Linked DNA regions of Homo sapiens. The protein of the gene in region 1 interacts with the protein of each later gene in a biochemical or structural test. Each region holds a gene or a part of one and is shown in the gene's direction. Other genes may lie near its edges.

Region 1 (4,024 bases):
CATATACTGTCATCCTGGGCACCAATAGGGATTAGGGAGCTATAGTTGGATTGATCTGCCATGCTGTTCAGGATGGACTGGGAAGTTGAAAAAGGAAGTTGCAGAATTGGTGGGTATGGTAAAGACTCATTTGGTCAAATGAAGGCTGGGTGTAATTGTAATAAAGATAGACACATTTGGCTTGGTGCAGTGGCTCACACCTGTAATCCCAGCACCTTGGGAGGCCGAGGTGGGTGGATCACGAGGTCAGGAGTTCAAGACAAGCCTGGCCAACATAATGAAACCCCATCTCTACTAAAAAAAAATACAAAAAAGTTAGCCTGGCATGGTGGTGCATGCCTGTAGTCCCAGCTACTCGGGAGGCTGAGGCAGGAGAATCACTTGAACCCCAGAGGTGGAGGTTGCAGTGAGCCAAGATCACGCCACTGCACTCCAGCTTGGGCAACAGAGTGAGACTTTGTCTCAAAAAGAAAAAAAAAAAGACACATTTTTCCTCTGGGATGCTTCATTATAACAAACCTTTGACAGTCGGGAAAGGAGACTTGCTTTTTTTTTTTTGAGACAGAGTCTTACTCTGTTGCCCAGGCTGGAGTGCAATGGCGAGTTCTCGGCTCACTGCAACCTCCGCCTCCCAGGTTCAAGCAATTCTCCTGCCTCAGCCTCCTGAGTAGCTGGGATTACAGGCATCCGCCACCACACCCAGCTAATTTTTGTATTTTTAGTAGAGATGAGGTTTCACCATGTTGGTCAGGCTGGTCTCGAACTCCTGACCTCAGGTGATCCACCCACCTTGGCCTCCCAGAGTCCTGGGATTACAGGCATGAGCCACCACACCCAGCCAAGACTTGCTTTTTCTAACCTCTTTTGTCACACGCCTGTGAGGGAGGGTTGAGAAGTTGAACAACTTATTTTATTTCTTTCTGTATTGATGGAAATTTTCCCATGGCAGTTTATTTAAAGAAAAAGTAGGGCCAGGCACAGTTGCTCACATCTGTAATCCCAGCACTTTGGGAGGCAGAGGCAAGAGGATTGCTTGAGGCCAGGAGTATAATACCAGCCTGGGCAACATAACAAGACCCTGCCTTTAACAAAAATTTAAAAATTAGCCAGCTGTGGTGGTGTGTACCTATAGTCCTGGCTGCTTAGGAGGCTGAGGCGGGAGAATTGCTTGAGCCCAGGAATTTGAAGCTGCAGTGAGCTATGATCATACTCCTACATTCCAGGTCGAGCAACAGAGCGAGACCCTGTCGTTAAAACAAAACTAAAAAATACCCAGCAAGGTGCAGTGGCTCTTGTATAATCCCAGCATTTTGGAAGGGTGAATCGGATCACTGCAGGCCAGGAGTTCAAGACTAGCTTGGGCAACCTAGACCCTGTCTCTTTTTTGTTTGTTTGTTTTTTGAGACAGAGTCTCTCTCTTTCACCCAGGCTGGAGTGCAATGGCCTGATCTCGGTTCACTGCAACCTCCGCCTCCCAGGTTCAAGCGATTCTCCTGCCTCAGCCTCCCGAGTAGCTGGGATTACAGGTACCTGCCACCACACCCAGCTAATTTTTGTGTTTTTAGTAGAGATGGAGTTTCACCATGTTGGCTAGGCTGGTCTCGAACTCCTGACTTCATAATCTGTCCACCTCAGCCTCCCAAAGTGCTGGGATTATAGGCGTGAGCCACCGTGCCCAGCCTATTTTTTTTTTTTAATTAAAAAATAATTTATAGTCTGGGTGCTGTGGCTCACACCTGTAGTCCTAGCACTTTGGGAGGCCGAGGTGGGCGGATCACTTCAGGTCAGGAGTTTGAGACCAGCCTGGCCTACATGGCAAAACCCGTCTCTACTAAAAATACAAACAAAATTAGCCAGGAGTAGTGGCAGGCGCCCATAATTCCAGCTACTCAGGAGACTGAGGCAGCAGTATCATTTGAACCCATGAGGTGGAGGTTACTGAGAGCTGAGATGGCGCCACTGCACTCCAGCCTGGGTGACAGAGCGAGACTCTGTCTCAAAAAAAAAAAAAAAATTTATAACTGGGCATGGTGGTGCATGCCGGTAGTCCCAGTTACTTGGGAGGCTGAGGCAGGAGAATCGCTTGAACCCGGGAGGTGGAGGTTTCAGTAAGCTGAGATAGCACCACTGCATGCCAGCCTGGGTGACAGAGCAAGATTCCATCTCCAAAAAAAAAAAAAAAAAAATTAAAAGAAAATTGCTGGATCTTATTAGTGTATAGTAATTTTTTATTGATGTGTGGGAAATTATTCCAAAATTTAGCAACTAGAAGCAACAATCACCGTCTCTTTATGTGGGGAATTTGCAGTGGCTGTGTTTGGTGTAGTGGCTCTGATATTCTAAGGTTGCAGTCAAGATGTTGGCTAAGGATGTGGTCATTTGAAGGCTTCATGGGGGTTGGAGGGTCTGCTTTGAAGATGGCTCACTAGCAGTGCTGCCTTTGGGAGGCACAGACAGTTCGAGTGTCCTCATGACAAGGCAGCTTATTTCTCCCAGAGTGAGTGATCCAATAGAGAGTAAGGCAGATGCCTGGAGGTCTTTTGTGACCTAATATCAGGATTCACATTCTTTCTTTTTTTTATTTTTATTTTTTTGAGACAGAGTTTCACTCTTGTCACCCAGGCCAGAGTACAATGGCGTGATCTTGGCTCACTGCAACCTCCGGTCCCCGGCTCAAGCGATTCTCCTGCCTTAGCCTCCTGAGTAGCTGGGATTACAGGTGCCCGCCACCATGCCCGCCTTTTTTTTTTTTTTTTTTTTTTTAAATTTTTTTAGTAGAGATGGGGTTTCACCATTTTGGCCAGGCTGGTCTTGAACTCCTGATCTCAAGTGATCCGCCTGCCTTGCCCTCCCAAAATGCTGGGATTACAGGGTGAACCACCACGCCCGGCTACACTCTTTGATTTCTATAATACCCCGTTGGTGTTACAGATCAGCTCTGGTCATCATGGGAAGGGACTGCATCAGTGGGTTAATGCCAGGAGACAAGGACCACTGGTCACCATCTTAGAAGGTGGGGGACTATCATAGTCCCGCTTCTGGCGCCTAGTGATTGATTTTGTTCCTTCCACACACAGATACCCCACTCACTTTCTCCTAAGTCCATATTCTGTTACAGTATTAGAAGTCTGTTAGAAGTCTAGAACCTCATTTTGTCAAGTACAGGTGTAGTAGTACCTGCATTTCCTTTAGTACAGTTCCTTTCAATCTGAAGACATGAGAATTTAAAGAGACAAATTACCCCTCACACACCCAGCATACAATGGTGAGGTGGGCATGGGATGACTGGTATGTATGGGATAATTATTTCTTTTCTTTTCTTTCTTTTTTCTTTTTTTCTTTGTTTTTTTTTTTTTTGAGGTAGGGTCTCACACTGTCGCCCAGGCTGGAGTGCAGTGGTGCAGTCACTGCTCACTGCAGCCTCGAACTCCTGGGCTCAAGCAATTCCCCACCTCAACCTTCTAAGTTGCTGGGACTACAGGCACATGTCACCATGCCTGGCTACTTTTTTATTTTTTGTAGAGATGACGTCTTGCTATGTTGCCCAGGCTAGTTTTAAACTCTTGGCCTCAAGTGATCCTCCTGCCTCAGTTTCCCAGTAAGTGCTGGGATTATAGGCATGAGCCACTGAGTCCGGCCTGCATATTTAGGTTTTTATTATGACCACACTGTACTTCTGATACCAAAATCTGTATTAGTTATCTATCATTGTATAACAAATGACATCAAAACTTGGGTTAAAACAGCAATACACTTTTTTTTTTTTTTTTAAGACGGAGTCTTGCTCTGTCGCCCAGGCTAGAGTGCAATGGCGTGATCTCCACTCACTGCAACCTCTGCCTCCTGGATTTAAGCAATTCTCCTGCCTCAGCCTCCCGAGTAGCTGAGATTACAGGCACACGCCACCATGCCTGGATAATTTTTGTATTTTTTTTTTTTAGCAGAGACGGGGTTTCACCATGTTGACTAGGCTGGTCTCGAACTCCTGACCTTGTGATCTGCCTGCCTTGGTCTCCCAAAGTGC
Region 2 (3,500 bases), on another chromosome or scaffold:
TTTCACATATATTATGTATAATTCCCCCAACAATTCTATGAGGTATATGCTGTTATTATAAGACCTATTGTATGGATGAGGAAACTAAAGCACAGGGATGTTAAGTGACTTTCCCAAGGTCACACAGAAACTAAATGGCAGAGCCAAGTGGCAGTGTCATTCAAAACCAGGGCACAAAATGTCCTAAGTTCACCTTGTACTTTCCCTGCACCAGGTCTGGAAACAGACATTTCACCAACGATTCCTAGTTCACGTTATTGGGCAATGATATTTAGAAGCCAAGCTGTATACTGGCTGAGTGTGCTCATTACCACTAGGGTGTCTCTGCCCTTTTGATGGATAGAATTAGGGCATACTCTATGATTTTTTTCCACTTTATTTTGTTCTCTACAAAAGATATCTGGTCAGAGTACAGTGTGTTTAAGTTCTCAAAATCTTTAAGGAGTCACGTTGTTAATTTGTAGTATATTTTGCTTTTTTGTGTTTATTTTTTGAATTTGTGAAACATTTACATGGTTCCAAATTACATATAAAAGCATTCTTTTGGGAGACCAAGGTGGGATCACTTGAGCCCAGGAGTTTGCGACCAGCCTTAGCAACAGAGGGAGGCCCCATCTCTGCAAAATATAAATATAAAAAACATTAGCCGGGCATGATGTCATGTGCCTGTAATCCCAGCTACTCAGAAGGCTGAGGTGGGAGGATCGCTTGAGCGCAGGAGTTTGGGGCTGCAGTGAGCTACTACTGGGCCACTGCACTCCAGCCAGGATGACAGAGTGAGACTCTGTCTCTTTAAAAAAAAAAAAAAAAGTATACTTAGAATCATGCTTCCATTCTTATCCTCTTCAGTCAGTTCTCCCTGACCCCCCTAGACGGCTTGATAGTCTATTTTAACATGTGGGGGAACTAGACCCTCCTTATTGCTCTCCTATTTCAGGGTTAGTGAAGATTGTTAAAACTGGAAGCCCTCTGTGTAAAAGAGTACAGTGAAGCAAATATGCATACACACTGCCCATGGGAATGTACACTTACAGGACTGCTTTGGAAGTTAGGTAGATTTTACTATAAACCATAAAAATCTTTGCAATTTTTGATTTGACAGTGCTGAAGTAACTCATACAAAGATACATACAAAAATATTCATCACAATTTTTTTTTTTTTTTGAGACAGAGTCTTGCTCTGTTGCCCAGGCTGGAGTGCAGTGGCATGATCATGGCTCCCTGCAACCTCGACCTCCCAGGTTCAAGCAATTCTAATGCCTCAGCCTCCCAAGTAGCTGGGATTACAGGCTTGTGCCACCATGCTCAGCTAATTTTTGTATTTTTAGTAGAGACAGGATTTTGCCATGTTACCCAGGCTGGTCTCGAACTCCTGGGCTCAAGTGATCCGCCTGCCCTGGCCACCCAAAATGCTGGGATTTCGTGCATGAGCCACCACGCCCGGCCCTCATTATAATGTTTTTTTTGCGTGGTGAAAATTTTAAAACAGTTTCAGTGTCCATCTTTAGCCATTGAAACGGTATATTGGTATATTCAGAGAATATTCATTGACATTGTTAAGGTTCTAACAATACAATAGGTGAAAGAAAGCATTGTACAAAAAGTAATGTGTTTTGTACATAGGGAAAAGACAAGAAAATTCATAAAAATGTTAAGGCAGCATTTTTCATTTTCTTTGTACTTTTTATGCCGCCTTTATTATGGGCTGGCAAGTGGTTGTGTTGTGTTATTTTTTAATTTGAAGAATTTTTTTTACAAAGTCTAATCTTTTCTATTGTGTAAGAATCTGGAAGGTAGAAGTAGTAAAAATGATAGCCCTTGCCATTCTTTTTCATTGTGCATTAAAAATGTAAGCATTTTTTTCTTTTTTTTGAGAGAAGGTCTTGCTCTGTCACCCAGGCTGGAGTGCAGTGGCATGATGATGGCTCACTGTAGCCTTGACCTCCTGGGCTCAAGCAATCCTCCCACCTTAGCCTCCTGAGTAGGTGGGACTACAGGTGTGCACCACCATTCCCAGCTAATTTTTGTATTTTTTTTTTTGGTAGAGATGGGGTTTCCCCATGTTACCGAGGCTCATCTCAAACTCTTGAGCTCAAGCTGTCTACCCACCTCAGCCTCCAAAAGTGCTGGGGTTACAGATATGAGCCACTGCGCCTGGCCTATTTCTTAATATATAAGTTACTAAACTAATATCGCTATCCTTTGAATAGCTAACATTCCATAATTGATTTAGGGTTATAGTCCAAAGTTTACAGATTAGTTTCTGGGTGTCTTACCTCCATTCTTCAGATGGCTGCTTTTTTTTTTTTTTTTTTTTTTTCTGTTTTCTTGAGGACAAGTATTAGAAAGCCAAGTGCAGAATATATCTTCCATAGAAGCCGGCTTTTGTTATGGTAACTTCCCTCAAATGGGGTAGGTGTGATGGTACTCACCTTCATAAACATTTTTCTTTTTTAGCATCTCAAAGACAAATTTTGGAATTTTATTTTCTACAAGTTCATTTTCATCTTTGGTGTGCTGAATGTCCAGACAGTGGAAGAGGTGGTCATGTGGTGCCTCTGGTTTGCCGGACTTGTCTTTCTGCACCTGATGGTTCAGCTCTGCAAGGATCGATTTGAATATGTGAGTTTTTAGCCAAGCTTTTTGCTTGCTTAGTCACCACGTTTGCCAACTTTGAATTGTGTAATGTGAATGAGCCACAGCAGGCATGGTCAGGGTAGCTCTTCTGGGAAGACTTCTAGATCAGGCCCCCATTGCCTGTTTCTTGAAGAACTTTCTACAGCAGCCAAGAGATGCAGAATCGTTGTCTCCTGGGGAGCTTTCTTCCCAACCCCATAGTGTTTACTTACTGCTAACATGGGGTCACTTCACCTATGCAGACTGTTTTGTTCACAGTGCAAGGAAACCTTGATACATAAACAATAAAATCTGGTCTTTTCTAGATATTTTCTGTTCTAGTCTCCTTCTGTCTCTCCCAGCTTACTCTGGTTCGTGGAGCTCTTCTTTCTGAGTAGTTTATACTATTTCCACCCCGGGCCAGGACTGAATTAGCTCCCTCAGCTTCCTTGTTTGCGAAGTGAATCATTTTATGTCTGGTACAAGATCTGTCACTTGGTTTCAGATCATAGCTGTATGAGTGAACCTTCAACCCATTAGTGACCTGAAGTAGTCTCATGAGTCCCAGATAAATGTGCATCTACAGTGCTGCCCCTCAGTTAAACCCGCTCCAGGGCCTTGTTTTTCCCTGTCTTTACCCAGTCCACATGGACCTTGCACCTTGGTTTGAGTTAATCTCACTCTCACAGCCTTTATTTCTTTCACATTCAACCCTCATTTGAAGTCACAAACAGGAGCTTCTAACCTCCCAAACTGTTTTTTTTAATCTCCGCCTGTGACCTCAGGAGTTGCAGCTCTAGGCCTTCTTTTCAGACTGTTGCCTCTCCTTGCATAATGCTGACATCACGTTGTAGTAGTGGTAAACCTGTGCCTGGATTGCATTT

The links.
Region 2: the proteins of GPI (region 1) and AMFR form a complex in vitro, tested with the Homo sapiens proteins (one study listed by BioGRID).

What each region holds. Positions count from the first base shown.
Region 1 is NC_000019.10:34,371,391-34,375,414, forward strand, and holds part of GPI (glucose-6-phosphate isomerase), read left to right. Parts: intron 1-4,024. UniProt on the Homo sapiens protein: In the cytoplasm, catalyzes the conversion of glucose-6-phosphate to fructose-6-phosphate, the second step in glycolysis, and the reverse reaction during gluconeogenesis.
Region 2 is NC_000016.10:56,408,546-56,412,045, reverse strand, and holds part of AMFR (E3 ubiquitin-protein ligase AMFR), read left to right. Parts: intron 1-2,457; coding exon 2,458-2,622; intron 2,623-3,500. UniProt on the Homo sapiens protein: E3 ubiquitin-protein ligase that mediates the polyubiquitination of lysine and cysteine residues on target proteins, such as CD3D, CYP3A4, CFTR, INSIG1, SOAT2/ACAT2 and APOB for proteasomal degradation.